3 linked regions of the Homo sapiens genome follow. The protein of the gene in region 1 interacts with the protein of each later gene in a pairwise test. Each region holds a gene or a part of one and is shown in the gene's direction. Other genes may lie near its edges. The genes, in order: ANKS6, VEZT and C1GALT1.

Region 1 (3,659 bases):
GAGGACCCCAAATTGTGTTTATGTGGCTTAAGCTGAGGATTGCTCTACTGGAAGGACACGCAGAACTCAGAGTCCAGCCCTGCAGACCACTGAGACTGAGGAAGTGGTGTGCTTAAGTATCGGGGGGATTGCCTGTGACATGCAGGTTCTGGGCCCACTCTCTGCAGAGTGATTTGGTAGCCCTGGGCAAGAGCCTGGAAGCCTCTATAACAAGGCTGCTCTCCCCAAGCACATCATTCTGATGCAGGTGGTTCTGGGGCCCTTCTACAACAAGGTTTGGCAAACTTTTTCTGTAAAAGGCCAAATAGACTGTATGGACCATACAGTCTCTGTTAAAACTACAGTAGTCACTTCTGCTAGAGTGAAAGCAGCCTTACATATGTAATGAGTAAATGAATGGGTGTGGCTATGCATATAATATGTAAATGAGTCAGGTATGGCTAGGTTCCAATAAATTATAACTACAAAAACAAGCAGTGGGATATATTTGAGCCATGGGCTATAGTTTGCCAGCCCTTGTTCTACAATAGTGTGCCTGACCTCCTCTGCCCTGATCATTTCTCAAACACTAGTTCATGTAAAATTGATGAAAATTAGTTTTTTAAAAAACATCTAGCAGTGCATCTTTTTTTTTTTTTTTTTTTTAACTTCTTGCCATCTCTCTGGCATGTAAAGAGTTGTCTAAACAATCCTTAGCAAATCTGCCATAGGACATACCACGTTTCAAAACCTTTAATGCACGGTTTGCAATAAGATCGCAACACACAGCCTTGGTACCCTCTGTCTATGTAAAAGGCCTGACTTCGACGGCAGGACTCACAGCCAGGGAGTAACAGTAGGTGGGCTGCAGTGTATATAAACATCTAGCTCTGAGAGGTCAAGCACTGAAGAAAGTAGCTTCAGGCACATTGGCTAAAAAGACCTGAAAGTGTTAAGTTTGTTACCATTGAAAGAATATAGAATAGCCCCATCAATCAAGAGATGCTGAAAATTTGGTAAATGCTTATTAGAAATACACTCTCCAAAAAAAAAAAAAAAGAAATACACCATCCAATCAGAACAAGTCTGAAATAAACATGTTTTAAAAGCCTGTAATGACAGAGAGGTGGCAAAAATGAAGAGGATGCTCAAATGAAAAGGAAAAAGAAGTTTAGGAAGAACTACCTGAAGCCAAGAGACCTCTTACTTTGTCCAGGTGGGAAACTGAGGCCCAGAGAGGGAAGAAAGCTGGTCAAAGGTCACACACCCATTGGAAGCTGAGTGAGTGACACTCAGGAGGTGAGGATTCCATGGGAAGAGCACCTAGAGGTGATTCTCCCACCTGCAGCTCCTGCATGGGCTCTAGAAGCTGGTTTAACACATGACTCTTCTGAGCCTTTGCCTCATCTGTGAAATGGACACAATGACAACTACTACGGGGTGGTGGTGAGCAGAAGGCAGGTTATCCTCTGGCGTGTGAGATACTCAGCCCAGTAGAGTGTTAGGGACTCATAAAGGCTTGCTATTAGAAATTAGGGCCCCAGTCTCCTAGGACAGGGTTTTGTTTTGTTTTTGTTTTTGACACAAGGCCATTGCTCTCCTTTAAAGGTTTGGGTTGTTTGTGGCAGGGATGGGGAAAGGATCTGCCCTTCCCAGGCCCTGCCGTGCCCAGCACACCTGCCATGCTGAATCTCCCCTCACCCTCGCAGGGACCCTCTGAGGAGGGTATTCCCCCATTTTGCAGGGGAGGGAATTCAGGCTCAGAAGTGAACACTCCAGAACTTGCACCTGCCCGTGCCTGCCGAGCTGTGCCTCTTCTGTTGTGCATGCGTTCTCCATCCCAGGTTTCCTTAGCCTCTGCATCTTGAATCTTCACGGAGTGCCCTCGGGCTTAGCTTCTGACAGGCCTCATTTTAGGGGTTGTCCTGGCATCATGGGATGGCGATGCCCTCATTTCCCCAAGATGCAGTGGCTCAGACACATTGGTGGATGTGGCCAAGGTCACTGTCCACTTGGTTCGATGCTGGCTGTGCCCCTGCTGGCCAAGGGACCTTGAACCAGCTGCCTCAGTTCACCAAGCTCCCATTTCCTTCTCCACAAATGGGTGCTGGAGTGATACCCGCCTCAGGGCTGCTGTGGGGTTCATGTGAGATCCTGCCTGGCCCAGAGGGAGCACATGGGAAGTGGATTACTCCATAGTGTTGTCGGCGTTATTTGACAGGAGCGAACCTCGGGTCTTCCAGCAGGATCTGGTCATGTTCCCATTGAGCAGAACTAGTCTGAGGCTCAGTTCTCCCACTCTGTACCTGGGTGGTCTTGGTCATCTTAATTGGCCCTGCAGGACTACAGTGTCTTTTTTCATAAGATAGTCATAATAAAGGCTCTTTTCTTGGGAGATTTTTGTGAGGAATAGTAAGATCAGGCCTGTAAAATTTTCATCGCAGTGCCCTGGCACATAGACGACATCCAATAAATGGAAACTATTATGTTTTGATTGATGATACATTCATTCCGATACTTTACAAAGACGTACTGAGGCCTGCTATGTATCAGGCACCTTTCTAGGCACTTTGGATACATCAGTGAACAAATGAGATCCAAATCCCTGACCTTGAGGACCTTGGCCTTGATAAGGGGAGACAGGCAGTCAGTAGGAAATAAGCATATTAAATATATAGTAGGATAGGTGGTAAGTGCCACAGGGTTAAAAAAAAAAAAAAAAGGGCAGTGTAAAGAGGTTGGGTGTGGCAAAGCTGGGACAATTCATCCTGCTGTGTCAAATGGAGTGGTTGGGCAACCTTGAGAAGGTGGGACTGCAGCAGACATGCAGGACCTGAGGGAGTGTGTTGGCCCTGGGGGATCCCTGGGAAGAGCCCCAGGTAGGGTGCAGGCTGTGCTATTGATAATGACAGATTATGAAATAAATAATAGGAGCCCCAGCTCTTACTGTGCAGTTCCCGGAAATCCAGCCCCCACCAAGGCCTTGGAGGTCCCCTGGTCTCTGCCTTTCATTAGCAGCAGGACAGGGTACTTTTGATGCTGTAACTGTCATTGCGACACCTCTGACTCCCCACTGAGGTTGTGGTGTGGAGTTGGAGCTGATTTCTTTTCCTTGGGTTGGGGCAGGGTCCCTGGGACTGCTTGGATATAGACGAAAAAAACTGAAGCCCAAAGCGAGGAAGGGACCTGCCCAGAGTCACTGGGTGTCAGGACACAGCTGCCCCTGCCTCTTGGGGCCAGGCTCTGCTGTCAGTGATTAACTTGTGTCAGATGGTTGCTTAGCAGCCAACACTAAGACCAGGTGACACTCTTTTCTGTGAAAAGGTCTTGGCATGAGAAGACCCCACCCCACAGCAAAGTTGGTTCTTGAATACTTGAAAGAACATGACATATTTTTTTTAAAAGTCAGGTGCAGAATAGTTTCTTGATAGTATTTCACAGGCAAAATTGATATACTGTGTCCCATGGCAGTGTCCGTACTTTCCATGAAGAATTCTGGGATTCTGGCCAGGTGTGGTGGCTCACGCCTGTAATCCCAGCACTTTGGGAGGCGGAGGTGGGTGAATCACGAGGTCAGGAGTTCGAGACCAACCTGGCCAAGATGGTGAAACCCCATCTCTACTAAAAATACAAAAATTAGCCAGATGCGGTGGTGGGTGCCTGTAATCCCAGCTGTTCTG
Region 2 (2,905 bases), on another chromosome or scaffold:
GAATTAAACTACAGTTCACAAATGTGTTATTTTTATTCATGAAAAAAATTCATGCTGGCCAAGCACAGTGGCTCACGCCTCTAATTCCAACACTTTGGGAGGCCAAGGCAGGTGGATCACTTGAGGTCAGGAGTTCAAGACCAGCCTGGCCAACATGGCGAAACCCCCTCTCTACTAAAAATACAAAAATTAGCCAGGTGTGATGGCGCACACCTATAATCCCAGCTGCTCTGGAGGCTGAGGCAGGAGAATCGCTTGAACCTGGGAGGTGGAGGTTGCAGTGAGCCGACATCGCACCACTGCACTCCAGCCTGGGTGACAGAGTGAGACTCTCTCTCAAAAAATAATAATAATAATAATAATAATAATAATTCATGCTTACCCCTTTACCAAGAATTCTGCCTTCTCCACCAAGCTGTCCTCTCTACTAGTCTCTCCTTCTCCATGAATCCTTCTCTGAGTGCTCCAGCTCTGCCGCCTCTCCTAACACTACAGACCCTCACACTAGAGGAACATTGTGATAAAATATAAAGGAAGTCTTGAACCCCAAAGCATATAGCAGAGAAGGGAAATGATTAACAGATTGATTTCCTGCAATCTGTTCATTCATATACTGGGCCTACATACATCAGAGATTAATTTTAGGCACTGTTGTTTTCTATATGTTCAGGGTTTTGTTTTGTTTTGTTTTGTTTGTCTCTGTAACAAAATTACAGTCTTCTTAAATAGGGGCCTTATTATCCCACAGCATTCATTCAGCAAATTACTCATTCAACAAGTAGTTATTAGGTACTTGTTATATGTCAGGCACTGTTTACTGCTGTATCCCTAGCGCAAAGATCAAGAGACAAAATGTAAAGCCTCCTACCTGCCTCAAGGCTTAAATTCTAACACACTCGTCAATTGATCCTCTCATTACTCAGATTATATCCACCCCATTTAATTAGTAATAATTGTGAACTATCAACCAACTTCTAATATATGTTGCTTCCTTTAAGAGCTAACAGATTTATAAACTAAGAATGTACATATATTGAAAATAGCATTGTATATAAACTTATATCCTTTTTTATTGTTTAGTGTTTCTTCATATAGCTTTAAAATTATGCTATTGACATTATGGGAAAGATTTATCAATGAGAGAAATGTGTCTCTTTTTCAGGTATGTGCTTTTGATATAGTTTACATTGGAAAGGGTCATAATGCTGTTTTAGTTTGTGAAAATAAGTAAAAAGCTGCTGATACCATAGAATGCTTTTCCCATGAAAAATTTCAGTACATCTTCCAGAGCTGTTTTCATCTCTGCCTACAGGGGTAAAGTCCGCATGGAATTAGAGGGGGAAAGTCTGCACTGGAACCTGCTGTGGCCATTTTTTTTCTGTTGTTGCTGCTTCTCTAGTGGAGTTACTGCAGCTTAGGGATGGTTCCTGGAAGTGGACACATTTTACAAAAACGTTTTTTAAATACACGCCAGCTCTTCGAGAAGCACTTTTTTCCTTCCGTCATGCTTCATACTATATTGTATTGTACTAACCCCTCATGCTGGGATGAGCGACTGCCTAGCAAGCAACCCACTGCCTACTAACATCAAGAGGGGCTAAATAAAACTGCATTTTCCTTGCAAGGACAACTTCTACCGTATGAATATATATTATATTTATGTATTATATTTTGTACAATAGTTGATCTTGAATGCAGACTTCATTTGTATTTTTCGTGGTACTACAAAATGTGTAGAAGTTATGGCTTTTCTTTCATTAGGGTCTTGTTAGGTGGTTGGCAAGTAAGTTAAATTGTATGTTGCATTTTTTTCCATGCTGTTTTAACTTGTAAATATATATGTATACATATGGAAGATATTATTATTATCTAGATTACTTTAAGCCTTTTATCTGATGTATTATCAGTGAAAACCATGCTGCTTATTCCCTAATACAATGGTTCTCAAACTTTAGTGTGTATCAGAATCAAGATGAGGGCTTGTAAAATATAGCTGGTCCCTACTCCCAGAGTTTCCATTTCAGGAGGTCTGGGATCAGGCCCAAGAATTTGCATTTTTAACAAATTCCTAGGTGATAACTGATAATGTTGGTTCAGGGAACACACTTTCAGAACCACTGCTTTAATATTTTAAATAAGATAATATGTGAGGTGTCATAAAAACCTTCATCAAATCCCTATCTCATTTCATTTCTTAGGCATTTTCTCTCTTATAAAGTTTCCTGGATTTATAAATTTTCATTGATTTTACTAGAAAGTTTTATTTAGCTTTTATTTATTTATTGTTCTTTTTAAGAAAAAAACTGAGAGTTTGAATTAAAAGTTTAAATCATTGCTAGGTCCTTAGTTATTTTTTTTCTTTTTTCTTTTTTTTTATTTGAAGCCGTGTTGAAATCCTTGTCTCCTGTAGACCCAGTGGAACCCATAAGTAATTCAGAACCATCAATGAATTCAGATATGGGAAAAGTCAGTAAAAATGATACTGAAGAGGAAAGTAATAAATCCGCCACAACAGACAATGAAATAAGTAGGACTGAGTATTTATGTGAAAACTCTCTAGAAGGTAAAAATAAAGATAATTCTTCAAATGAAGTCTTCCCCCAAGGAGCAGAAGAAAGAATGTGTTACCAATGTGAGAGTGAAGATGAACCACAAGCAGATGGAAGTGGTCTGACCACTGCCCCTCCAACTCCCAGGGACTCATTACAGCCCTCCATTAAGCAGAGGCTGGCACGGCTACAGCTGTCACCAGATTTTACCTTCACTGCTGGCCTTGCTGCAGAAGTGGCTGCTAGATCTCTCTCCTTTACCACCATGCAGGAACAGACTTTTGGTGGTGAGGAGGAAGAACAAATAATAGAAGAAAATAAAAATGAGATAGAAGAAAAGTAAGAACCAAGATTCA
Region 3 (3,659 bases), on another chromosome or scaffold:
GCTCCAGTGATGTCCTAGATAACACTGACATGAAACCAATAAATCAGAGTGTCAGTTCACATTAGGATGAGTTTGCTTTCCTTTGGCTAAATCACTAATAGAGGGATAAATAGGGACTTTGAAATTAGGACAGTGCTTTCTTCAGTATAATTTATTAATATTTGGATTTTACATCTATGTAAATAACCTTTTAAAATGTTTTGTTTAATAGATGAGAACACAGACATTGCTGAAAACCTCTATCAGAAAGTTAGAATTCTTTGCTGGGTTATGACCGGCCCTCAAAACCTAGAGAAAAAGGCCAAACACGTCAAAGCTACTTGGGCCCAGCGTTGTAACAAAGTGTTGTTTATGAGTTCAGAAGAAAATAAAGACTTCCCTGCTGTGGGACTGAAAACCAAAGAAGGCAGAGATCAACTATACTGGAAAACAATTAAAGCTTTTCAGTATGTTCATGAACATTATTTAGAAGATGCTGATTGGTTTTTGAAAGCAGATGATGACACGTATGTCATACTAGACAATTTGAGGTGGCTTCTTTCAAAATACGACCCTGAAGAACCCATTTACTTTGGGAGAAGATTTAAGCCTTATGTAAAGCAGGGCTACATGAGTGGAGGAGCAGGATATGTACTAAGCAAAGAAGCCTTGAAAAGATTTGTTGATGCATTTAAAACAGACAAGTGTACACATAGTTCCTCCATTGAAGACTTAGCACTGGGGAGATGCATGGAAATTATGAATGTAGAAGCAGGAGATTCCAGAGATACCATTGGAAAAGAAACTTTTCATCCCTTTGTGCCAGAACACCATTTAATTAAAGGTTATCTACCTAGAACGTTTTGGTACTGGAATTACAACTATTATCCTCCTGTAGAGGTAAGTTTAGAAATTTTATTACTATGTCAATACTTGGACTGACTGAATTTTGTTGATAAAAACATGTTAATATGTGTATGTTTCTTTAGTACCAACAACAAGGACTCTTCCTTAGTCTTTTTAAATAGAGTGGCAGTATAACAAAATAGATGAGAACAGGGACATCAGCAATCAGCAGTAGTCACTTAGCAAATAGCTATTGATGCTGTTATATGCCAGGCACTGAGAATGTAGAAGTAAATCACAGCCAATTTCCAGTTCTCGTGAACCTTACATTCTGGATGAGGAGATATACAGTAAACAGGCAGACTTGTAAATATAAAATAGGATTTTAGTAGTAAGTGCCCTGAAGAAAAATAAGCCAAGTAAGGGGATGGAGAGTGACCCAGAGTGGGATGGAGTCCTCTGGTTTGGGTGATTAAGAAGGCCTCTCAAAGAGGTGACTTTTGAGCAGAACCCTGAGTGTTATTAGAGAGCAAGTTGGGTGAAGATCTGGGTAAAGAGCCTTCTAGTCATCAGGAGGATTTAATGGAGGTTCAGAAAGACCTAGAGTCAAATCCTGCTCTCTCACTTAATAGCCGAACAACCTTGGATGGACAGGAGCCTTGGATGACATCTGAGCTTCAGTTTCCTCATTTGTAAGATGGACATAATGTACCTGTCTTATTTAGTTGTTGTAATTACAACATAGTACAGCCCTTCACACAGTAAGCATTTAATAAGCCTTGGCTCACATTCCTGAGAATTTTATCTAAAGTGCATTATTTTAGGAAGTATTCCAGTAGTACAAATATTTCAGAATATACATTGTACTTATCCCCTGTCTTTACCAAATATTAATCTTTTTGCCACATTTGTTTCAGTTATTTAAAGAAGAAAATGCTATAGTATTGTTTTTCAGATTTTTAAATAAATATCTTTCTACAACTTGCCCTTTTCACACAACATTGAGATTTATCAATGTTAATTACATGTCTGCTGTGTTCACTATTATAAGCATTGCTTCAGTGAATAACTGAATGAGACCAGGAATCATGGAACCTAGCTTTTAGGCTCAGTTCTGTTACTAATAATGCCTTTAGGCAAGTCACTAGTTCTCTATGCCTTCTTTTCTGTGGACCTAACGTATAAATAATACACTTCATGCTACTACTGTCATCTTCATAAGGCAATGCTTTCAAATCATCATCTGGAACAGTGATTCTCAACCCAGGGCAATTTTGCCCCCAGAGGACATTTGGCAAGGTCTGGAGACATTTTTGGTTGTTACAGCTAGGAGGCTGCTACTGGCATCTAATGGGTAGAAACCCACTACATTATAAACCTACTAAATGCTAAACATCCTAAAATGCACAGGACAGCCTCCTACAACAAAGAATTACTCTAGCCCAAAATGTCAGTAGTACCATGGTTCAGAGACCCTGGCCTAGAACATCTGACCCAAGCTTTAGGTAATCAGCTTTAAAAGGAAACTTTTGATAGTCTGTTTTTCTATTTTAGTGAGAGTACTACTTTGGATGCTTTTTTGATGTAAACTTTTCTTAATATATTTTGACCATTCCAAGATGACTTGATCTTTTTTCCTTAATTCTGTATCCTTTTCCCATATAAAAAATTTACCCAAATTCAAGAATATAAACATGTAGCAAATACATCCAAATGCATATAAGATCTTACTAAGAGTATCTGATGTTGGATACACATACAGTAGTAGCAAAGGGACATCATAATTGGCAAATTTGTTCTTTCTCTAGAAATTTATCAAATTATGTTGAAGACCATAAAACAGAATTAGAATTCAGAGTACCAAAATTGACCCATCAATCTGACATTGCCTGTTCTCCCTCAGGAGATTCTTACATAAACCCAACGTGAAACTAAAATTCTATTATTATCCATCTATCATTTAGTAAGTTTTCTTCCCCCTAAATGAGTTTAAATCTTATACATACTTTTTTTTTCTATATACTAATTACTGAAAATACAGAAAATTTTTATCTAGCAAGTCAGGGTAAAAGATATTCTAATTCATGAAAGAGTTACATTCCTAAATTTCTTGTTCAGAACTGACTCTTAAGCAGTTCCCTTCCCACTCCACCTTCTTAGTAATAGACTTTTCACCAGAGAAGTTGCAGTGAGTCTTAATATGGTAGATTTAAAATATATGTGTAATTGTTTACATATATATCTCTCTACATGAAAAATTGACTTTTCTGTAGGTCAGAAATGGTCAAATATGATCTACTTTATTCAGTTTTATTTACATTATTCTATCTGAAACATATTAGTACATAAGTGAGGTAGAGAGCTCCTGATTTTTTTAAATTGTTAACTAATTATTCTACTACCATTTTTTAACTCATTACTGATTTAAAATGTCCCCCTTATCATACACTGTAACCTTACTTATAGTAGGATCTAAATCTGGGATTTCATTTCTATGCCATTGTTCTCATTTGATTTTGGCCCAGCACCATATTGTTTTGAACCTTGTAGCTTTACAGCAGTTTTAAGTTACTATTCTAAGGGCAAATTAACTCTTCTTTTTTTCTAAGTGTTTTGGCAACTCATTTCTTTATCTTTGCATACAAACTCATTAATTTAGGGACAATAACATCTTTGCCCAGGATTTTTTGTAAGTCACCTTTTAGGTCCTTTGGTCAAGTTTTATAAACTATTTCCATAGGTATGCAATATTTTTGTTACTGTTCTACTTGGGCTTTTAAAGACTTAACTTTTTACTGATATATATGAAAACTTATTTGTTTGATTTTCTTTTT

What was found.
Region 2: the proteins of ANKS6 (region 1) and VEZT interact in a two-hybrid assay, tested with the Homo sapiens proteins (one large-scale study listed by BioGRID).
Region 3: the proteins of ANKS6 (region 1) and C1GALT1 interact in a two-hybrid assay, tested with the Homo sapiens proteins (one large-scale study listed by BioGRID).

Annotation. Positions count from the first base shown.
Region 1 is NC_000009.12:98,786,415-98,790,073, reverse strand, and holds part of ANKS6 (ankyrin repeat and SAM domain-containing protein 6), read left to right. Parts: intron 1-3,659.
Region 2 is NC_000012.12:95,297,782-95,300,686, forward strand, and holds part of VEZT (vezatin), read left to right. Parts: intron 1-1,080; coding exon of another isoform or gene 1,081-1,115; exon of another isoform or gene 1,116-1,162; intron 1,163-1,312; coding exon of another isoform or gene 1,313-1,335; exon of another isoform or gene 1,336-2,383; coding exon 2,384-2,892; 3' UTR 2,893-2,905. UniProt on the Homo sapiens protein: Plays a pivotal role in the establishment of adherens junctions and their maintenance in adult life.
Region 3 is NC_000007.14:7,238,044-7,241,702, forward strand, and holds part of C1GALT1 (glycoprotein-N-acetylgalactosamine 3-beta-galactosyltransferase 1), read left to right. Parts: intron 1-211; coding exon 212-879; intron 880-3,659. UniProt on the Homo sapiens protein: Glycosyltransferase that generates the core 1 O-glycan Gal-beta1-3GalNAc-alpha1-Ser/Thr (T antigen), which is a precursor for many extended O-glycans in glycoproteins.